Homo sapiens: one gene and its partner. The protein of the gene in region 2 interacts with the protein of the main gene of each other region in a biochemical or structural test. Each region holds a gene or a part of one and is shown on either strand. Other genes may lie near its edges. The genes, in order: TJP1 and CGN.

What was found.
Region 1: the proteins of CGN (region 2) and TJP1 form a complex in vitro, tested with the Homo sapiens proteins (2 studies listed by BioGRID and IntAct, with this or other methods).

Annotation. Positions count from the first base shown.
Region 1 is NC_000015.10:29,812,469-29,819,468, forward strand, and holds part of TJP1 (tight junction protein 1), read right to left. Parts: intron 1-7,000. UniProt on the Homo sapiens protein: TJP1, TJP2, and TJP3 are closely related scaffolding proteins that link tight junction (TJ) transmembrane proteins such as claudins, junctional adhesion molecules, and occludin to the actin cytoskeleton.
Region 2 is NC_000001.11:151,504,852-151,521,463, reverse strand, and holds the start of CGN (cingulin), read right to left. Parts: upstream 10,078-16,612; 5' UTR 9,949-10,077; intron 2,959-9,948; 5' UTR 2,945-2,958; coding exon 2,072-2,944; intron 1,299-2,071; coding exon 1,198-1,298; intron 1,051-1,197; coding exon 981-1,050; intron 869-980; coding exon 773-868; intron 1-772. UniProt on the Homo sapiens protein: Probably plays a role in the formation and regulation of the tight junction (TJ) paracellular permeability barrier.

The DNA of each region.
Region 1 (7,000 bases), on a different chromosome or scaffold from region 2:
CTGGGGCTGAGCAAGAGCTGCTTCCTTTAGACAAACTGGCTTGTGCTCTGATGGAGCAGTGCCCTCTCTTCTGGCTTTCATGATTCATGCTGCTTTTCTGGTCTAAGACTTACCTAACACCATCCCATACTCTTCTCCCTGGTGCTCTCTTACAACACACGAACATAAAAGGATGTGAATGTATGACTTATAGAACATGTAAGTAGATGTATGATTACCTATGGCAAGTAAATTTAACCTCAGATCCTTCACCTGTAAAAACAGAGATAATCGTAGTATCTAACAGAATTGTGAAGATTAAATGGGATAATGCACATAAAACACTTAGCTCAGTATCTGTCACAGAGTCAGCATGCAATATAAGGGGCTACTGTTTGTTTTGACACATATTTCTCACACTTATAACTAAAATGTAAGCCTACTTGCCATGGCTACTGACTTGATTTTTATAGGTGATACAGCATCAAAATAGTGTACTTCTGTATTAACACTCCAGTAAGTATTAATACTCCAATAACTGCCACTGTTAGAAAAAAAAAATCAGTAAATAAACCTTCCTTAGTACCTTTATATGACATTACCAGGAAAAACTTCCACAATTATATTTTGAAAGGCAGACTCATTTTTGCCAGATTCATGTATTTCCCCTGATTGTGGCTTTTGGTGGTCTGATCAGTCAGGTAAGTGGATATCTTACTACTAAAACATACTTCAATACTTACTACTAAAACATACTTTAGTATGACAAACATCTTAGTCATAAAATATCCTCCAAACTAAGACCAACTTGATTTTTCAAGATAATCATAGGAACACCAAAAGAAGCTTACTACCTTTTGCTCAGCTGTTGGTACTCCAATGACTGCCTCATAATGCATATCTAATTCTTGCCCCTCAGACAGACATATACAATATTTTTCTCCAAAAAGCCACAGAAGTCTAACTGAAACTATTTTCTCCCGAAACCAATAAAGTCCTCATACAATGGAATACCATGAAGTACAAGAACTGAATGAAAACTAATGAGCTACAGTTCTCCACAACATAATCTTACAAACATAATGCTGAGCAAAAGAAGCCATATACAACAGAATTCACACTAGAAGATTCTGTATGCGCAAAGTTCAGAGAGTCAAAACTAGTGCTTTCAGAATGCATAATTAGGTGGTAACTATAAAGAAAAACTAGAAAATGAGAAACCTAGAAGACAAGATACATGCAATCTTTGAAGAAGGGAGGATATGACCCAGAAAAGGCATGTTAGGGATTCTAGCACTTATCATTATGGACAGAATTTTATTTGCTGCTCTCTACCCGCACCATTAAAATGCCCTATCAGTACAGAGATGTGTTCACTGCTGCATCTCCAGCACCTACAACAGTGATTGGTACACACGAGGTAACCAACAAATATCTGCTGAATGTAAAATTCCGCTTTAGGAATCCAAATTGTTACATATTTCACAGCTTCTTGAACCCTAAATGTAACAGTAACAGCTAGTATAGTGTTCATTTGCCTTGTCAGTATATTCAAGGAGCTGTTAAGCATATAAGCCAATTACTTTATAATTCTTAATGTCTCCCTCCTATTGAGATATTGATACCAAACATATGCAGAAAACACTTACATCAATGTATCCAGATTCAATTCAAACATTTAAAAACATTAACAAGGAAAAATACAGAAACTCTGCTAAACAGCAAGCCCAGGTTTAGAAAATGACTTTGTCACCTCCTCCAACGAAGAAAGCACACAAGAATGCTCTGTTATTACAGGATGACCATAAGTTTGCTCGTATTTTTAAGAGTAAACAATGCAAATCCTTTGTTTCTTCAACAATGAGTTACACAATTCACAAAGTGATCATTACAGCGTATAGCAGTTGAAAACTGTAAATTTCTAGGATCGGGATCCCAAACAAAATGTACTCATTTAATATGTGTTAAGCTAACAAAAAGAATTAGTCATTACTGGTATCCTCCTGAATTTTAAAATTACATACTAAATTAAGTGAGCTAATCTTATATTAAGTTTAACTGGTGATATTCAGTTACCAGAAACTGTTGTACAATCTCCAAGATAATGACAATTCCAAAAGCGTGAAAATTCCTAAGATAACCAAGAAGAAAAATGAACTTTTCAGTCTTTGGGAATTTACATTTTTTTAAAAAGGAAAAAATATTTCGGTAAGTCAAAAAAAATTAATTAAACCAGGTATACGCTAATCTTATGTTCCTAATTAGAATCCACAGAAAGTAATATCAGCTTCTGTTTTACCTCCTTTCCGGACATGATAAACTAGAATTGAGATCATTCACCAGTTAACTCACTTCCCAGTATTTTCAGTATATCAACTGAAATATATCCGCAACACAAACTAATAAAACCTTATCTCTTGATCTATCCCAAAGTGAGGGCCACCTGAGATTCAGTATTGAGCACTACATATATGACAGGGTTTTGTTATCACATTTCAAATGGTGTTTTACAGTACAAAGTTTGGTAACATTGGTGTTCTCATGATCTAAAGCTGTGTTCTTGTGGTAAAGGCAATCATTCAGAGTCCATTTATTTTCATCCATGCTTAGGATATAAGATAAAACTCCCTACCCACGTATTCCCCACATACTGCTCATTATTAAGAATTTATCTGTTTAAGAGGAATGGAAATAAAGCACCTGGCTAGCCCATAAAGGAGCAACCTGAAGCCACTCTTCTCTGCAATAAATAAATAAAGATGCACTCTAGGTCAGAGAGAGCAAAAGTCTTATTTTTATTGCTGGCTTATGCAAGAAATACTGCAACACACCAATTTTATAGGATTAACTTTAAAATCTGTAAACTATCCTAATGTCTATTTCTTTCTACAAGACTAAAAGTTGTTAAAGTAAAAAGGTTTTTCAAGATTTGCTTTCAAAATTCAGAGGTGCAAAGCAAGTTCCAGTCAAATATTCCAGGAGGATCATTCTAGACATAAACTATCTTTTTATTTAACATATCAAAACTTTGCTAATTAGAAATGACTGGCTCATTCCACTAGCTTGTCTTCAGCTACTATAATGCTCAGTCATACACAATGCTGAGCACGTGAATGCTTTCAGGCAGGCCTGAAATGAGCAATGACTGAGCAGTCACAGATGGGTGGCACTACACATGAATTTACAGCTGGACTCATGGTCTTTCAGTAAGGTGAATTTTTATCATATCAGGGGTATGTCAAGTAACAGGATTACGTCTTCAAATTTTCCACCAAAACTATTATTTTTAAAGACATTTTCCTTAGCAGCATGGTGATCTATCATATTTATACACAGTTTTATTCTTAGAACTGTACAGAGTTTACATTTGGTCTCTAAACAGAAAAGAGATTAAAGAGCAAGTAAAAGTCAGAGCCAGACCTTGTTTCCAGGATTGGAGGGGAAAAAGGGAGTGGAACTACTGTACTTTTTTTCCTTCAAATCAAACGGGAAGCAGTACTACATATACTGCGTTACAGCCCTCGAAGCCACAGATTGGTTTCCACCTCATTATTTATTGGTGTCTTTCCTTTTTTTTTTTTGAGACAGACTCTCACTCTGTTGCCCAGGCAGGAGTGCAGTGGTGCTATCTCGACTCACTGCAACCTTGGCTCAACTGCAAACTCTGCTTCCTGGGTTCAAATGATTCTCCTGCCTCAGCCTCCCAAGTAGCTGGGATTTTAGGCATGTGCTACCACACCCGGCTAATTTTTGTATTTTTAGTAGAGACGGGGTTTCGGCCGTGTTGGTTGTGCTGGTCTTGAAGTCCCGCCCTCAGGTGATATGCCCGCCTCAGCCTCCCAAAGTGCAGGGATTACATGCTTGAGTCTGGCAAATTGGTGTCTTTCCTAATAATATAATGTAATTTGTGCCAATATATAACCTGGGGGGGAAGAACACCACAATTTGAAACATAACTATCTTATGAAGCTGTCCTGAAACAAATGTAAGAGTTGTAAAATGTAGTTAGGATTATCAGCCAACTATATAAATTAAAGCTTTAACCATGATGGTCTAAAATGCCAAACACACACAAAAATTATTGCTACAGTGAGGATCATTAAAAGTTGGCAGCCAAACTTCAGTGACTTCTCACAAACTACAGTGAGTTTTTCACTTTTAAAACAGTATGAAGCAAGTATGCATTGATCAGTAACTATCATAATTAAAACACTGCATCACTCACTCAAGAAACAATCCCTATATGTAATGACTGACTCTTGTCATTAATTTTTGTTCATTAGCTTGGCCATTTTCTGCAGCTCTTAAGGTTTCAAAAACGTTAAGATATCAAGAAAAGCCCACTGTATACACAAATTAACTCAAGATGGATTAAAGACTTCAATGTAAAACCCAAAACCATAAAAACCCTAAAAGAAAACCTAGGCAATACCATTCAGGACATAGGCATGGGCAAAGACTTCATGATGAAAACACCAAAAGCAATTGCAACAAAAGCTAAAATTGACAAATGGGATCTAATTAAACTAAAGAGCTTCTGCACAGCAAAAGAAACTATCAGAGTGAACAGGCAACCTACAGAATGGGAGAAAAACTTTTGCCATCTACTGATCTGACAAAGGTCTAATATCCAGAATCCACATGGAAGTGAAACTAATTTACAAGAAAACAAATATCCGTATCAAAAACTGGGCAAAGAATATGAACAGACACTTCTCAAAAGAAGACATTTATGCTGCCAAAAAAAAGGAGGTATTTATGCGGCCAACAAACATATGAAAAAATGCTCATCATCACCGATCATTAGAGAAATGCAAATCAAAACCACAATGAGATACCATCTTACACCCGTCAGAATGGTGATTATTAGAAAGTCAGGAAACAACAGATGCTGCCGAGGCTGTGGAGAAATAGGAACGCTTTTACACTGTTGGTGGGAATGTAAATTAGTTCAACCATTGTGGAAGATAGTATGGCAATTCCTCAAGGACCTAGAACCAGAAATACCATTTGACCCAGTAATCCCATTACTGGGTATATACTCAAAGGAATATAAATCATTCTCCTATAAAGACACATGCACACATATGTTTACTGCAGCACTATTTACAATAGCAAAGACATGGAACCAACCCAAATGCCCACCAATGACAGATTGGATAAAGAAAATGTGGTACATATATACACCATGGTATACTATGCAGCCATAAAAAAGAATGAGTTCATGTCCTTTGCAGGGACACGGACGAAGCTGGAAGCTATCATCCTCAGCAAACTAACACCAGAACAGAAAACCAAACACCACATGTTCTCACTCATAAGTGGGAGTTGAACAATGAGAACACATGGACACAGGGAGGGGAACATCACACACCAGGACCTGGGGCCTGTTACCCGGGTTGGTGGTGGGGGGAAAGGGAGGGAAAGCATTTAGGAAAAATACCTAATGCATGTGGGGCTTAAAACTTAGATGATGGGTTCATAGGTGCAGCAAACCACCATGGCACACGTATACCTATGTAACAAATGTGCACATTCTGCACATGGATCCCAGAACTTAATTAAAAAAAAAAAAGCCCACTGTGCTCCACTTGATACAATAAATCAATTCCTGGGTATCATGTAAATCAGTGTAACAGTAAAAAATGACATAAATCATTTTCATACTTACATTATAATTTCAGATAGCCACAGCGGGCAATACTACTATTCCCGAGACTTAACAAAAACATTTAAGTATTCAGCAAAATCTAATAAGCATATACAATAGCACAATCTTAAATTAAATTTTATTGCTTCCTCCAAAGGAAAACAGCTTGAAAACACAGAAGCCACTGAAACTTCCTTCAGCCACTTTTCTGTGATTCAACCAATGAAATCGTTTCTTAACAATGATTCATACCACTTTCTTACACATTTAAACAATTCTTTGGTGACGCAGAGAACCACCCTAATTCTTGTTTTTCAACTTTCTAATAATCTTAAATCAAATACACCAGTAAACAAAATTCTGACTGCGAACGCAGACGTTTATCACACATATAAAAAACGTTTTTTTCCTTTATTTATTTATTTGAGACAGCGTCTCGCTCTGTCGCCCAGGATGGAGTGCAGTGGTGCGATCTTGGCTCAATGCAACCTCTGACTCCCGGGTTCAAGCGTTTCTCCTGCCTCAGCCTTCCCATTAGGGGGGATTACAGGTGCTCGCCACCAGGCCCGGCTATTTTTTTTTTTTTTTTTTTGTATTTTTAGTAGAGACGGGGTTTCACCATGTTGGTCAGGCTGGTCTTGAACTCCTGACGTCGTGATCCGCCCCTCCTGGCCTCACAAAGTGCTGGGATTACACCGCGCCCGGCCACGTTTTTTCCTTCATTACTTTTTGTTTTTGAGACGGAAGCTCACTTTGTCGCCCAGGCTGTAGTGCAGTGGCCCCGATCTCAGCTCAATGCAACCTCCGCCTTCCAGGTTCAAGCAATTCTCCTTCCTTAGCTTCCCAAGTAGCTGGGATTATAGGCACGCGCCACCATGCCCGGCTAATTTTTGTATTTTTAGTAGAGACGGGGTTTCACCATGTTGGCCAGGCTGGCCTCGAACTCCTGACCTCAAGTGACCCACCCGCCTTTATTACTTCTTTAGTATCATGCACGGAGGATTCTTTTCAATCTAGGTACATACATATTTTTAAGTAGTATTCTACATTTTCTTCTATTTTAGAATTTTTATTGCTCTTTGTCATTTAGATTTCCTTTGATTTTTTTTAGCCTATGAGGCAGAAAACATTTTTAAAAAATGGATAACCAATAGTCCTAGCACCATACATTGAACAAGCCACTTTCTCCAATAGTCTACAATATTATTTTTTACCACATATTCGTAGTTTTCCACCTTGCTGGCTAAATGAACTTAAAAGTTATCGTATCTCTGTGTTTCAATTTCTTCACCAAAAAGTAGAGATAATAGTTCACTTCATAGGGTTACTGTGAGAATTAAATAAATTGAGCACTTAGAACAATACCTGACA
Region 2 (16,612 bases):
AAACAGAGGCTTAGAACATTTAAAGAACTTGCCCAAGGTCAGTTACACAGCCAACAAGTAACAGAACCAGGATTTGAACCCAGTTAGTTTGGCTCCACAGCCAATCACTTAATCATTACACTACAGTGATTTCCAAAAGACAAGGGAAGTTACAATCCAACATTTATTGAGCACCAACTACACACAAACCAATATGATGAAAGGCAGAAGACATGTTTTTAAAAAGGGTACACTGGCTTTAGAATAAGACTGACCCGGATTTTTTCATTCCTCTCTGCAACTTACTACCATAGGCAATTTACTTAGCCTCTCTGATCTTCAGTTTTCTCATCAGAAAAGGGTCCAGAATAGGTATTCACAGGGTAACTATAATGATTACAGTACCCAGGACAGTACATACTACCAAAATTATACTCAATAAATGATAGCTACTACTATTGCCATTATTATGATAATGATAAAAAAAAATTGAGGCACAGAGAATGTAAGTAATTTTCTTAAGTTTTATATAGCTAGTAAGGGGCAGAGCCAGGATGGGAACTCCCAAAGGGAGTGGAATGGAAGGTAGGTAGATTCCTAATGTGCTCTGCCTCCCTAACCCCCACAGAACCCCAGAAGTCCTTCCTGGAATTAGTACACATTCTTGTCTCTTGTCTCATAAGACACAAACATGCTTGTTCCATTGCTTAGAAGGGTCAGCTCAGCCCATCTCCAGGCCAAGGCTTTTTCCCTGTTTTCCTTCATGCCTCCGGCACCTCTAACCTTTCCTTACCTTCACCTCTTCATCCAGCTTTCGCTGTAGCTCCTCCACTTTTCGGGTAAGCTCACCCTGCCCTGCCACGGCCTTAGTAGAACCAGAAGAAACCATCTGCCAGAGATATGGGGGGTGTGGGGGAAGGGAGTGAGTCCAAGTCTGGATCCCCTGAGGCCCTCAAAGCTCTAACCTTGACCCTTGCTCCCATCCAGAGAAGGCCACTCACCACTAGAGGCTGCATCTTCTCCAGCACCAAACTAACCTTCCTCCTCACAGAGGTTTCACTTTCTGAGCTTCTAGAGGATAAAAGGATAGAAGCAAGGGTTAGGGGAGGAAAGAGGTAGCAGAGATCAGGAAAGGGTAAAATCAGGGAAGATGGGAAACAAAGCTAGAAGAAAAAGAAGGAGGGGTATGCCTCTGTTGTTGGGGGGGCCCCCACTCACCCCTCCCTCAGGATGCCATAGATGGTGGCCTTCATATGGTCCACACTGCCTGGTGGGGCTGCCTCCTGCTGGTCTCGAAGGAGGTCTGGAGTTGATTTGAACTGTTAAAAAAAAAGAAAAAGAAAAAAAAAAGAAAGAAAGAAAGAAATAGGAAGATTAGGCCAGAAGCATGCGTGGGGTTCAGATGGAGGAGAAGTGGCAGTCTCAGGTCAAGTCCCTTCAAGCATGATGAACAATCCTGAAATGCAGCAAGGAAAACATGCTGTGGAGGCCTGAGCAACAGGCCAGGGAGAGGCCAACACAGGATGCACCTCTGCACTGTTGCTGTAAACCAGATTTTCCTCAACAAACATCTCAACCAGCTGCAAACTGTGCCACAAGTGATTTGTCACTAATGGTAGTTAACATGCTAGAGTTTATAAATAATTTACTTTTAAAACAGACTTACGTTTCTCTCAAAGTAAAGTCACTCCCTCACTTACTTACATTCCTGAGTAGGAGAGAAAGGTGTGGAATTTTGGCAAGAGCACCAAGGAAACTGCTCTTATCCTCCAAGCCCGCCTTACATATTCTGCAGACCTTGCAAATGCTGGTGACTGAGCCATAGTTAATGGTTGTGGCAATGACAACTAGGTCCAAACTTGTGAATAGTGATTTTATAGCTTGCTCCATTTTCTTTAGAATTTTACCCATGGAAATATCCTGTGCATGTGAATATCACCTATTTTGTGGACAGATACAGTAGAGAACAAAAGGCAGAGAGTTTCTGCCTAGGCTATTTGAATTAGCAAGGAGGCTCATGGCTGGTGGGTAAAAGCTGATGAGAAGGGAGAAGGGGCTGACATTTAGAAGTCAGGGAGGGGCTGGGTCTGACCTGCAGCATGGTGGGGTCCTGTGCACTCCTCCGCGGCTCCTCAAAACTCTGAAGGACCCAGTCCTGAGTCTGACGAGAACGGCTAAAGCCACTGAGAGGACTCAGGTTCTGGCTCTGGGCTGGCTGCTTCGAAGTGCCCACATGGTTGTCATATTTTGTGCTAGAGGTCCAGTGGTTGGTGGACTGGCGCTCCCGTTCCTCAAAGGTGTCCCGTGGGAGGCGGCTGTCCAGGCTCTTGCTCCGTTTGCGCTGTTCAGGGGGTAGCATCCGTGTTCGGCGGCCAGTCCGACCCCGGGCCTGGCCTCCAAGTTGACTGTCAAACTTGTTGATGAGTGAGTCCACTGAAGACAGGGGAGCAGTGTCAATGGTGCTACCTGGGGAAGCCACTTTCGGGGCTAGCTCCAGCATGCTGTTGCTTCTGTTACTAGGATCCACTGGGCCAGGGCCTGCCAGTGAGGCCTGGGAGTGGGAACGGAGTAGCTTTCCATTCCAGTAGGCCCCAGGCTCCTCATCAGATGTGCTGCTCTGCGAGGGGGCAGGAAATCCCTTGACCTGAGAGTAGGGGTTCTCAGGGAGTTCCAAATCTGAGCTCAGAGCTCCTGAGGCCCCTTGGTCATTGGCCCCCTTGATTTGGACCCCAAAGGAGTCACCGCCTTTCTCCCCACTGTTGAGCACCACAAAGGGCTGCCCAGCGATTCCCTGCACACGCACAGCAACCCCGTAGGTACTGGCTCTTGCATCCTTAGCTGGGCGTCGTCCACCTCGACGTAGAGTGCCCATCTCTGCACCACTCACTGGCTCTGTGATGAAGCGAATCTGGACTCCATGGTCTACGGGGCCCCGGGGCTCAGCCATGTTGGGTGCCTGCTCCATAAATAGGAGGAGTCCTAGAAGATGAAGAAATGAGTTTAGGCTGAGAGACTTCACTAGAAACTATGAAACTTCTACCTGCGGGCTGACTTCCCTGTCAGTTCCTACTAGATAAACCACTGATTCTCAGACTAACAGAAGGCCCCTGGAGAGCCTTTTAACATACCGGTTGCTGGACCTAACCTCCAGAGCTTCTGATTCAGTAGGTCTGGGTTAGGACTTGAGAATTTGCATTTCTAACCAAGTTCCCCAGGTGATACTGATGCTACTGGTCCAGGTACCACACTTTGAGACTCACTAACCTAAAAGAATCCACTTCCTCTGATACAGCCCTGGGGAGCTAGGCTTTGTTAAAAGTTTAAAGATTTTGCTTGATGGCCAGGAGCAGTGGCTCACACCTGTAATCCCACCACTTTGGAAGGCCAAGGCGGGTGGACTGCTTGAGCTCAGGAGTTCAAGACCAGTCCGGGCAACATGGTGAAACCCCATCTCTACAAAAAATACAAAAATAAACTGGGCCTGGTGGTGCACACCTGTAATCCCAGCTACTTGGGAGGCTGAGGTGGGAGGATCACTTGAGCTTGAGAGAGGCTGCAGTGAGCAGTGATTATGCCACTGTTCTCCAGCCTGGGTGACAGAGTGAGACCCTGTCTCAAAAAAAAAAAAAAAGATTTTACTTGATCTTCATACATACATATAATACCACCATGTGGCCAGGTACAGTGGCTCATGCCTATAATCCCAGCACTTTGGGAGGCTGAGGCAGGTGGATCACCTGAGGTCAGGAGTTCAAGACCAGCCTGACCAACACGGTGAAACCTTGTCTCTACTAATAATACAAAAACTTAGCTAGGCGTGGTGGCGCATGCCTGTAATCCCAGCTACTCAGGAGGCTGAAGCAGAAGAATTGCTTGAACCCGGGAGGTGGAGGTTGCAGTGAGCCGAGATTGCGCCACTGCACTCCAGCTTGGGTGACAAAAGCAAAACTCTATCTCCAAAAAAAAAAAAAAAAAACACTGTGTGCCTTCTTCCCTTCCTCCCACCAAGGGAAGGCAGAACCCACACCCTGCTGAGCAGATACCTCCATCTCACTGGAGAAAAGGGGGCCTTCTCTCCCAGAGCTCATTTAAAATATAGAAGACCTCAAAGTATATCATCCCACTTCTGGAAAGAAACTTAAAAACACTGATAGCAGTGATGCCTTTGAGGTGGAGGAACTGAGGACTAGGAACAGGGATGGGAGAGTTTCTATTCTCTGGAAGAGCAGAAAGGAGTGGACATTCTACTGTATATCTCTTATGTCCCTTTTGAATTTGGAACCACGTAGATGTATTATCTATTCAAGAAAAGGTTGTGTTTTTTTTGAGACAGAGTTTTGCTCTTGTTGCCCAGGCTGAAGTGCAATGGCGTGATCTTGGTTCACTGCAACCTCTGCCTCCCGAGTTTAAGCAATTCTCCTGCCTCAGCCTCCCGAGTAGCTGGGATTACAGGCACCTGCCACCATGCCCGGCTAATTTTTGTTTTTAGTAGAGATGGGGTTTCACCATATTGGCCAGGCTGGTCTCAAACTCCTGACCTCAGGTGATCTGCCCGCCTCAGCCTCCCAAAGTGCTGGGATTACAGGCATGAGCCACGCACCCAGCCAAAAATATTTAAATGTGGTTTAAAAACTGTGCCACTCGGCCGGGCATGGTGGCTCACGCCTGTAATCCCAGCATTTTCAGAGGCCAAGGCGTGTGGATCACCTGAGGTCAGGAGTTTGAGACCAGCCTGACCAACATGGTGAAACCCTGTCTCTACTAAAAATACAAAATCAGCCGGGCGTGGTAGCGGGGGCCTGTAATCCCAGCTGCTCGGGAGGCTGAGGCAGGAGAATCGCTTGAACCTGGGAGACGGAGGTTACAGTGACCCAAGATCACGCCATTGCACTCCAGCCTGGGCAACAAGAGTGAAACTCTATCTCAAAAAAAAAAAAAAAAAGTGCCACTTTAAGGGGCCCCAGGTCAGGTAAACTTGTCTCAGCTGAGAGCCAGAGCCAACACCATCCATAGGCCAGCTTCCCAGGTCCACATTGCTAAAGCTCAGAGTCAGCAAATGGAATGTATTCCAGGTATGCTCTGGCTCCAGGAACTTGGGGGAGAGATTGTCTTCCAAGCAAATAAAAAAATTCAGCTTCCCCACCCCTTCTGCTAGTCTCCACCAGAGCCTAGCACCAAACTGGAGGATGAGCCTCTAACGTGCCAGACAGAAACACAAACATACCCAACTCAACCTCCCCATGGAGTTCTGGGCCAAGGAAACTTGGCAAGGCCCCTTTCAGGGACTGTAAAGTGCTAGCAAGCCAGGGTGAGATGAGAAGGGAGGGGAAGGGATGGGAGAGGCAGAGCTACAGGTGACAAAGGGCTTGGTGGGGAAGGTCTATCTGAAGAAGAGCATTCTTAGAATTCCCAGCAATTCTCAAGAGAAAGGAACAGGGAGAGAAGAGCCCTTTATTAGGAATTGTTCTTCATCTTTTTGGCCCTGGGACTCCATGAGAAAATGATGAAAGCAATACACTCTCCCTGAGGAGACAGCACATCCAAACTTTTATCACCCCATCTTAAAAGGCTTGTGAAGGCAGACAGGTAAAGTAGTTCTCCAAACCACTCATCCAGTAGAAGAAAATGCACTGGGCTAGAGTCAGGATCTGGTCTGGAATCCTGTCTCTGCTCTTCACCTGATGTATGCAACCTGAGGCAAATCACAACTTTTCTGGTGTGGTGGCTCACGCCTGTAATCCCAGCATTTTGGGAGGCCAAGGTGTGTGGATCACTTGAACTCGGGAGTTTGAGACCAGCCTGAGCAATATGGCAAAACCCCATCTCTACAAAAAATACAAAAAACTAGCCGAGTATGGTGGTACACACCTGTAGTCCCAGCGACTTAGGAGGCTGAGGCAGGAGGATCACCTGAGCCCAGGAGGTTGAAGCTGCAGTGAGCTGTAATTGCACCACTGCACTCCAGCTTGGGCAATAGAGTAAGACTCTGTCTCAAAAACAACAACGACAACAAAAAACCCACAACTTTTCTGTGCCTCAGTTTCCTCATCTGTAAAATGGGTATAATGATAATACCCCACAAGGTTATTATCTGTGAGAATGAGATAATAAATAATTATATGGGCATATACAATGATAAAAAAGTACCAAGTTATACCCTTAAGATCTTTGTACTTTATTTAGGCCAGGCGCAGTGGCTCATGCCTGTAATCCCAACACTTTGGGAGGCTGAGATAGGCAGATCACCTGAAGTCAGAAGTTCAATAACAGCCCGGCCAACATGGTGAAACCCCACGTCTACTAAAAATACAAAAATTAGCTGTGCGTGGTGGTGCACGCCTGGAATCCCAGCTACTGGGGAGGCCGAGGCAGGAGAATTGCTTAAACCTGAGAGGCACAGGCTGCAGTGAGCCGAGATCCGCCAGCCTGGGTCACAGAGCAGGACTCCATCTCAAAAAAAAAAAAAAAGATGTTTGTACTTTATTGAACTTGGGTTCTAATTTAATAAAAAGGAGAGAAAAACAAGATATTAAACATGAAAACATTTAGCATGTGACTATCACAAAGCTGACAACAAATATCATCCTTCACACATGCTACTTTGTCCAACAGGCACTTTTGGCTTCACCTGGTTCATAGAAAGATGTCACTTCTTCAGAGAAGCCTTCCCTGACCACCACTCCCACAAACAAGGTCAGTTCTCACAAATCAGCCTCCCACAAACCAGGTCAGATCCACGTTATACGCTCTATAGTTGTCCTTCAGCAGGTTTACTCCAGTTTATATTTATACATTTATTGGAGTAATTATTTCCTGTCTGTCTCCCCTACGAGATAATAAGCTCCTGGAGGGCAAAGACCATGGCTAGCAGCTAACCACTGTGTCCCCAGGTGTTTGGACACGTGGTAGATGTCAACAAATATTTGTTAAAGGCTGTATCCTGAACTAAAGCCCACTTGCACAGCAGTGGGGAGATTTGCCCAGGACAAATCTACTTTGCCTCAGTAACAGGACCTCTTAGCAACAGGACCTCCTCCTGGTCCAGACTTGCTGCCCTATGTAGTCATGATCTTAGAACCAGAAGTGCCTAGATTGCCAGCTCTCAGAAGCCATATGATTTATTCATGATGCAGTCTACCCTGTCAGTACATCTACTGATCTTCCAGATCCAGGTCAAGGAGTTCCCAGCCTAGGCCCAGCAGAGGGCACAGACCCTTGAGCAACAGCACTAAATTATTCAGAGGCAGTGTTGAACACTCCCCCAGGTCCCAGGTTAGGTTAACTCCCTAACCTCAATCACCTTCAGTCCAAGGACATGTGGATCAGGGGCCAGGAGGGCTGAAGGGATCTTTGGGGTGGGTCAGAAAGCAGGGCTCTAAATGATTCAACATGGAAAACCCGAAACCTACCCGCCTTTGGTTACAGAGGACAGTGGGGCGGGACCAAGGCAGCAGGGCAGCTCTGAGGCCTTGCGTAAGCCCCAGAGACAGGCAGGTAAACAGTGATCAAGGGCCAGGCAACATGGAGTCCAGGGCCTGCGCCCTCACCAATGCCTGACCCTACTTTTCTCTCCCCTATCACATGTCCAGGGCTCTCCTCACCAACTGTACTCCAGGAAGAGACCAGACCACAAGTTGATTCAGGTGCATCTGTCTGCTTCTGCCTTTCCTGCCTGCAAGGAGTGGGAGAACACTCTACACCTGTACCAGACAGCCACTTCTCCCTGAGTTACTCATTAGCCTGCCCTGCCCCAATTCCATCACCTCTGGCCCAGCCATATGCATCTGGTTTCCAACTAGGAGTGACAGGGTATCTGGACTTCTGGCAGGAAGTGGGGGTGGGGTGGTTTCGGGTGTGTGGAGGAAGGACTGATTCACATAGGGCCAGGCAATATGCTTGATGCTAAATAATTGGCAGATTTAGAAAACGGGAGAACTTGAGGTATAGAGATTAGAATCCCCTCAGAGGAAACAAGGAAAGCAAATGGTCGAAATAGAAAAGGACAGCTCAGTGACCTTGATGATTTGGCACCCTTTTTCTCATAGTTAGAGATAAGAAGGTTCCCCGTGGATCCAAAAAGAATCCCCCAAGTGGACTCCTGCCCAGGTCCGCTGAAAGAGCAGAAACCTGAGAGCCAGGCTACAGCTGCTTGGCCAGTAGGGAAAAAAACACAATGAGGAACTGGGCCCCTGCAAACTGGCTGGACTGGTTTGAGAGGCAAGGGGAAGGGGAGGGCCGGGGAAACTACACTGGCAGCTTGTAAAGCAGACCAGAGAAATTCCACACCACGGAGGAGGCAGAGGGGCAAGACCACAGGCAGGGGCTCTCCAGCCTTGATGGCAAAGCCAAAGCTCTGAAGGAGAGGACAGAGGGCAGGGAGGGAACAGGCAGGAGGAGCAGATGAACAGGAACCTGGTGACAGGCCAGTATGTGACAGGGAGACTTTGTCTCCCTCCACCCCTCCCTTTGAGGTTCCCAAAGTTGCATTCCTGATCCCACACTTGCTTTGGCCACCTCCCTGGTCCTCAGTCCGCCCCTCCCTGGCACAAAGAGAAGAGCCCTACACCCCCATCACCTCCCACAAGGGGAATGGCATGCAGGCCAGCCTGGGAAACACAGGAAGGGTTCTAGGAAGCCAGAATCCTCTTAGAGTCGGGCAAATCTCTGGATTAGCAGTCCCCCAGAGCCAGCCCCCAGACTCCCAAACATCCAGGATGAAAGAAGAGATGCATAGGCATGTGTAGGCAGCCCATCTACAAACATAGCGGTTGCTAATTATTTCCCAATTACAACAACCTTCCTCAGGCAGGGCTTCAAAGGGGCCAAGCTAAGGTTGACTCTAGTTCCTTTACCTGCCTAAGGCAAAGAAATTTGCCTCCAGTCTTGTCTGGGCCCCAAGGTGCACCTTTCATCTGTCCTGGGGATTTGGAGTTGTAATTTCCCTAGTCTCGTGGTCTCCTGATGAGTCCTGCCTATTTCCTGCCCCAATAGTGCCTGCTGCCATTCTGACAGCCACCGCAGTTCAGGAGTCAGGGATGCCTGGAGGGCGTTCAGGGAGTAATGGGGATTCCTCCAGACATCAAGGAAATTGGTTGGGCTCCCAAACCTCATCCAATGGTCCCCATCTAGAACCACAGAAAAAATATGTGGGTACTTGGAGAAAGGGTTTGACATCCGCCCCCAGAAAGGGGCCTCCTGAGAAATAAGTATTAATATTTATCAATATTTTGCAGGACCAGGCAGGGCTCTTTGCTTCCTCATATCCCTCTCTTGGGGAGTACTCTCTCTCTCTCTCAAGAGGAAGAAGGAACGATTCTCCCTGGCACGAAAGCAAAGGACACAAAGTGAAAGCCTAATGGTTGTACACCTGGTGAAGAGATGAGGGTGCCCTCTCATCTGCCCCTCAGTGTCTCTGATTCGCAACTGCCTTCGGCCGGAGGTGAAGGGCTGGGGAAAAAATCCCACACCTCAGAGTCATCTCAAAGCCACCAGGGTGCTGACAACGGCCAGCTGAGACCGCAGGACGCAGGAAAGACCCTCAGGCGAGCAGCACCTGCAGATGCCCTCCCCTGGCGAGTCTGCACCTCAGGCAGCAGCAGTTCCCGACTCAGCTGGAACTAACTCCTTCCCCGCGCCACCGCTGTCTCCAAGAGAAATTCTGCCCCTAGGGCTGGCGTCTGACCTCCAGAGACATCTGGCGCTGAAACGCTTTCATGCGCTGGGAACAGCCTTCGCCCCAGGTGCCCCTCGCCTGGCACCTTCCTAGCCACCTGCATCTGGCACCTCAGGGTAGGGGTCGGCTCTTAATCAGTACCCCACCCCGCCCCAATCTCCCCTCCTCCCGTCTCCCACTCGGCACCGGTGCCCTGGAGAGGGGCATCTCACACCGCCTCGATGCCTGCCCCTCAAAGGTACCCCTGAAGGCTCGCTTTCCTCTCGGGTGCCCTGGCCCGCACCGGGTCCACTCACCCTAGCCGGGCTCCGCGCTCCCAGGCTTGCGTTCGGGCTCGGGCTCGGGCTCGGGCTCGGGCTCGGGCTCGGGCTCGGGCAAAGCAGCACGCGCAGCTCCGGCCCTCCCCCTCGTCCTCGGAGCTCCCTCCTTTCTCTCCCTCCCACCAACCTGTTACTCCGCTGCGGAGCTCCACCCCCGCGGGCCGTCAGTGCCCGCCCCGCCTTTCCCCGCTCCGGTTGGTCCGCTTCCCGTAGGGGGCGGGGCCTCCGGTGCGGGGACCGGGACCCGGGGTCTCCAGCCGCGAAGGGCGGGCCAGGTCACGTGGACCCACGGGCTGCGGAGCGTCGGGGCGGGGCGGCGAGGGGCGCGGAGGCCATTTTGGGGGCGTCGCGGATGGTCGCGAGTGACCGCCGGCCAAGATCCCGGGAGCCGTCGGCCAGAGCATCTTCTGGGCTCTGCTAGAAAACAGCCTCCTGCCTCCCGTTTACTCCAAGGGAATCGCCGGCCAGGGCCCTTTCTGTCCTTCACCTACCTCTGCAGGAACCAGAATGCTCTTTCGTCACTTTCTGCAGAAAATATCTCCGTTGTCCCCCGACGTCAGAGCCTCCTGCACCTCAGCTCGTCTCCCTTTTCCCTGACCCGAACCAGAACCCTGATCTTGGATTCTCTTTTATCTTGTGGCCTCCGCAATCATTTTGCAGCCTGACATCTTTTTCTATGTAATATTTATCACCTTCTAGTTAATAACATAATTTTAAAAATCATTTTCATCATTTTGCCTCCCGTCCTACGATAAGCTTCACCAGAGCAAGGATCTCTTGTTCTGTGCCTTGCTTCACCCCAAACGCCTACAACAGGGACTGGTACATACTACATGCTTAATAAATATTTGTTGACTGAATGAATGGAAACCGGGGACGCAAATTTACCAAAATAGGAATGACCTTCGTTCTAAACTGAAAGGGACTCAGTTGTAAATTTACCTCAGAGTTAGCCTCTCAAAAAGTAGGGATGCTGATCCCAGTTCCTAGAAAAGAGTAAAAACTAGGGGCTCTGCAAACTGCAGGACCGCTCATACCAGCTGCAGTTAAAACAACATTAAAGCTGGCATCCTAGCTGTTAACCGTTGAGATATGTAAAAAAGAGATTGACTTCGTTTACGTTGCTGGGCTCCGGATTTTGTTCTCATTTAGTTACAACAAATATTTACCCTGTATCTATTGGAGTAGAAGAGGAATCTTCGATGCAGCACAGATTCCGGTGTATTCTCGGGAGCTGGTTTCCGCCCCTCCCCAAGCCTTCAAAAGCTAGGTGTGGGTCCTACAGAGTAAAGTCCACTTACCAGCTCCTCAGCTGGGATGCAAAGTCTCTGCATTCCAGAGCAAGCTGTATATAAGGATTAGGGCCATCAAACCGGCCTGTTCCCTGGGGAGGAACAGCAAAAAACATGTAGTGGGGGTGGGGACAGAAGAGGAAATGTCCTTCCAGGAGCGCACCTCCTGAACACTGGGTGGCTTTTAAAAGACTTTTTTTTAAAAAATTTTTTCTTATTTTTCTTTTATTGTGCAGCCTCCTGAACCAGAATAGGTTCAGAGACACTCCCATGGGATGGTTTTTGGTTTGGGTTTTTTTTGTTGTTTTTTTTTTTTAAGACGGAGTCTTGCTCTATCGCCCAGGCTAAAGTCCAGTGGCGCAATCTCGGCTCACTGCAACCTCCGCCTCCCAGATTCAATTGATTTCCGGCTAATATTTTGTATTTTTTAATAAAGACAGGGTTTCACCAGGCTGGTCTTGAACTCCTGTCCTTAAGTGATCTGCCCACCTTGGCCTCCCAAAGGGCTAGGATTACAGGCGTGAGCCACCACACCCAGCCTGTTTTGGGTTTTTTTGTTTTTGTTTTTGCTTTAGTTTTGTTTTTTTCATTGAGACGGAGTCTCACTCTGTCACCCGGGCTGGAGTGCAGTGGTGCAATCTCTGCTTACTGCAGCCTCAGCCTCCAAAGCTCAAGCGATCCTCCCACCTCAGCCTCCTGAGTGGCTGGAACTTCAGGCGCCCACCACCACACCGGGCTAATTTTGGCATTTTTAGTAGAGATGGGGTTTCCATGTTGTCCAGGCTGGTCTTGAACTCCTGAACTCAAGCGAACCGCCTGCCTCGACCTCTCAAAGTACTGGGACTACAGGAGTGAGCCACCACGCTCGCCCCCACCAAGTGTTTGTAAGGAGATTTTTTTTTTTAATGTGGGATATTAAATTGACTCAGATATTGGAAAGGCGGAAGCGCCTAAACTCCCCTAGATAACACCTTAGCAATTAGGATACTTAGTATATTTGTAGTAAATACCAATTTGGGTGGTTACCCAGCACCATGAACACGAATTACAAGGATAAGTGGGAGCCTCTGAGTCACCGCCTTCGTCATCTGTTCTTCAAGGAAGCACTCAGTCTGAGAGGTACATCCAGGCACAAGTGACAAAGGCGACACCCTGGTCTTTTTCCAGAGTTCAGAAGACAGGTGATCCCTCTCCTTAAGAAATGCTACAGGGCCAGGCGTGATGACTCATGCCTCTAATCCCAGCACTTTGGGAGGCCAAAACAGGAGGATAGCTTGAGCCCTGGAGTTGGATCGCTTGAACCCAGGAATTCAAGACCAGCCTGGGCAACACAGTGAGACCCCATCTTTATAAAAAATAATAATAATAAAATTTTTTCAAAAAAGAAATGGCAAAATTGGCCAGTTTATAAATACAGCAAAAACAGAATTTATAGCAAATATAATACCCAGAAAGAAGAAATAACACTGATAGATGTTAAAGAGAGAAGTTTTATTTTATGAAATGGGATAATAGAGAAAGTTTTAGGTAAATTGCAGGTTTCATCAAAGAAGTGGATTTGCCATCCTCGCTAACATGGTGAAACCCCGTCTCTACTAAAAATACAAAAAATTAGCTGGGTGTGGTGGTGGGCGCCTGTAGTCCCAGCTACTTGGGAGGCTGAGGCAGGAGAATGGCCTGAACCCAGGAGGCGGAGCTTGCAGTGAGCTGAGATCTAGCCACAGCACTCCAGCCTGGGCGACAGAGCGAGACTCCATCTCAAAAAAAAAAAAAAAAAAAAGTGGATTTGGAACCAAATTCCTCTCCTGCAATTCTTTCCTGAATTCTCCAAGATTCACTGATACCACTAGCAACTCTACTGAATTGTTCTCTCAAAGATCACCCGTTTAAGGCCGGGCACGGTGGCTCATGCCTGTAATCCCAGCATTTTGGGAGGCCAAGACAGGCGGATCACGTGAGGTCAGGAGTTCGAGACCAGCCTGGCCAACATGGTGAAACCCTGTCTCTACTAAAAATACAAAAATTAGCCGGGCATGGTGGTACATGCTTGTAATCCCAGCTACTCGGGAGGCTGAGGCAGGAGAATCGCTTGAACCCAGGAGGCTGAGGTTTCAATGAGCCGAGATTGTGCCATTGCACTCCAGCCTGGGCAACAAGAGTGAAACTCTGTCTCGAAATAATAATAATAATAATAATAATGGAAATGAGGTGATGCCACTAGCTGAAATGGAAAGGACAAGAGACAGGAAGGATTTGAGGAGGACCTAGAAGAAGAGTATGATAAATTAACTCTGGAACCTGATATTTTAAAGAAGCATGTGATGCCGGGCGCGGTGGCTCACGCCTGTAATCCCAGCACTTTGGGAGGCTGAGGCGGGCGGATCAACAGAGGTCAGGAGTTCAAGACCAGCCTGACCAACATGGAGAAACCCTGTCTCTACTAAAAATACAAAAATTAGCCGGGCGTGGTGGCACACGCCTATAATCCCAGCTACTCGGGAGGCTGAGGCAGGAGAATCACTTGAACCCGGAAGGCAGGGATTGCGGTGAACAGAGATCACGCCACTGTGCTCCAGCCTGGTCAACCAGAGCAAAACTCCGTCTCAAAAAAAATTTTAAAAAAGCATGTGGTAAATCCACACACACATACAAATGTCTAGCAAACAACTGGAAATGAAGCCTAGAAAAGAAATCAGGGCTAGAGACAGAGCTAAGAATCATCCTCATAGATGAAAGTTTGCTAAGAGGACTACAGAACAAACTGTGAGAAATAAAGGACAGATGAGGAGTAAAAACGGGATCATTGTGGGGTTATTGAGAAAGGTAAGTAAAGAAGTTCATGCAAGAGAGGTATTCAAGTAGGAGAAGAGACTGGAATTTGGCATTTCGAAGTTATGGGTGATCTTCCAGACGTCAGTTTCAGCAGTGTGATAGGCTTTCAACTCAGAATGCAATATAAGAAGTGTATCAATAAAAAGGAAAGAGAGAGGGTACCTTGACTTAAAGGAAAACAGGGTAAAAGAAAGGGCAACTTCTATGTTTGGTTTTGGGGTTTTGTGGGGAGACTGGTGGGGGGGTGTTTGGTTTTTTTTGAGACAGGGTCTCACTGTCACGCAGGCTGGAGTGTAGTGGTGCAGTCACGGCTCACTGCAGCCTCAACTCCTTGGGCTCAAGCGATCCTCCCACCTCAGCCTCCTGAGTAGTTGGGACTACAGGTGCACATCACCACACCCAGCTAATTTTTGTATTTTTTGTAGAGAAGGGGTTTTGCCATATTGTCCAGGCTGGTCTTGAACTCCTGAGCTCAAGTGATCCACCCGCCTCGGCCTCCAAAGTGTTGGGATTACAGGCATTTGCCACTGTGCCCAGCTGGTTTCATTTTTAAGAGGGAGAGACTGGCTGGGCGCAGTGGCTGACACCTGTAATCCCAGCATTTTGGAAGGCCAAGACGGGCAGATCACGTGAGGTCAGGAGTTCAAGACCAGTCTGGCCAACATGGTAAAACCCCGCCTCTACTAAAAATACAAAAATTAGCTGAGTGTGGTGGCACATACCTGTAATCCTAGCTGCTTGGGAGGCTGAGGTAGGATAATTGCTTGAACCTGGAAGGCGGAAGTTTCAGCGAACCGAGATTGTGCCATTGCACTCCAGCCTGGGCAACAAGAGCGAAACTCCATCTCAAAAAAAAGAAAGGAGAAGAAGAAGAGACTTGGTTATGTTTTAATAAGAAGCTAGAAAAGGAGACAAGATTCAAGAACTAAGATGAGATGGGAGAAAGAGGAAAAGAGAAAAAGAGAACAGCCAAATAGTCAAAACTTGGAACTTAGAGGAGAAGGTGAAGTCTCTGTTCTGGAACTTAAATTGGAAGAACAGATGTGAAAGAGTGAGGAGTTGAGAAAGTTGAGGCAGGTAACTAGTTCACCAGATTACTGGACCTGCCAAAGAGAAGTGATTCTCAGGGCTGGAGAATTTGTTAAAAGGTTTTGGAACTGCTGGTATTATCTACAAGCCTAAGGAAGAATATGATAAATGCCAAATCAATGGCACAAATGAAGTGTTACTGGAAAGCTTCCCTTTCAACTAGAATAGAGTGATTTATAATCTGGGCCTTGAAAAAACAGGCAGGGGAAAGGAAGGAAGAAAGACAGCAAGAAAACGTGCAAAGGCCCTAGGGGCAGAAAAGCATCATGTCAGTTTAGCGAACTGGAAGGTTAGCCTGTAGAGCAAAGGGACAGAGAATAGTGGTAAATAAGATGATAGGTAAATTCTGGGGTAGATTGTATAAAGCCTAGAATATCAGAATAAGAAATGTGGGCTTTCGGCTGGGCTCGGTGGCTCACACCTGTAATCCTAGCACTTTGGGAAGCTGAGGCAGGTGGATCACCTGAGATCAGGAGTTCAAGACCAGTCTGGCCAACATGGTGAAACTCTGTCTCTACAAAAATACAAAAAAATTAGCCAGGCATGATGGCGGGTGCCTGTAATCCCAGCTACTCAGGAGGCTGAAGCAGGAGAATCGCTTGAACCCGGGAGGCAGAGGTTGCTGTGAGCTGACATCGCTCCATTGCACCATTGCACTCCAGCCTGGGTGACAAAGAGAAAAGAAAAGAAATGTGGGCTTTCACAGTATTCTAGCCTGAGCAACAGAGCTACACTATGTTTCTTTAAGAAAAAAAAAAAAGAAAGAAGTAAAAAGAAATGTGGGCTTTATTGGTAGGTAATGGAGAGCTATTAAATGTTCTTGAGCAGGAAAGAGGCAGTACTTCAGAAAGTCTCTATGATAAATGCAATGGTAAGGCTTGATTGAGGTAAACCCTAAAAACCACAGTGGTGGCCGGGCGCAGTGGTTCACATCTGTAACCCCAGCCCTTTGGGAGGCTGAGGCAGGCAGATTACCTGAGGTCAGGAGTTCAACAACATGGTGGCCTGGCCAACATGGTGAAACCCCGTCTCTACTAAAAATACAAAAAATAGCTGGGCATGGTGGTGGGCGCCTGTAATCCCAGCTACTCGGGAGGCTGAGGCAGGAGAATCGTTTGAACCCAGGAGGCGGAGGTTGCAGTGAGCCAAGGTCGTGCCATTGCACTCCAGCCTGGGCAACAGGGCAAGACTCTGTCTCAAAAAAAAAAAAAAAAACCACAGTGGTGGCAAAAGGAGGGAAAAGCAAGGACCACTCACCCTGATGCTCTTTTAGCGTATTACTCATCATTTCTCTCTTGAGCTTTGTTTACAAATACTTTGCTCTTCAACAGCAATAATAATATGTAATTATACTAACACTTGGGGCTTTTCCTGGCTAAGTACAATTTCTATTCTGGTTAGGGAAGATAAGAAATGGTCACTGCATA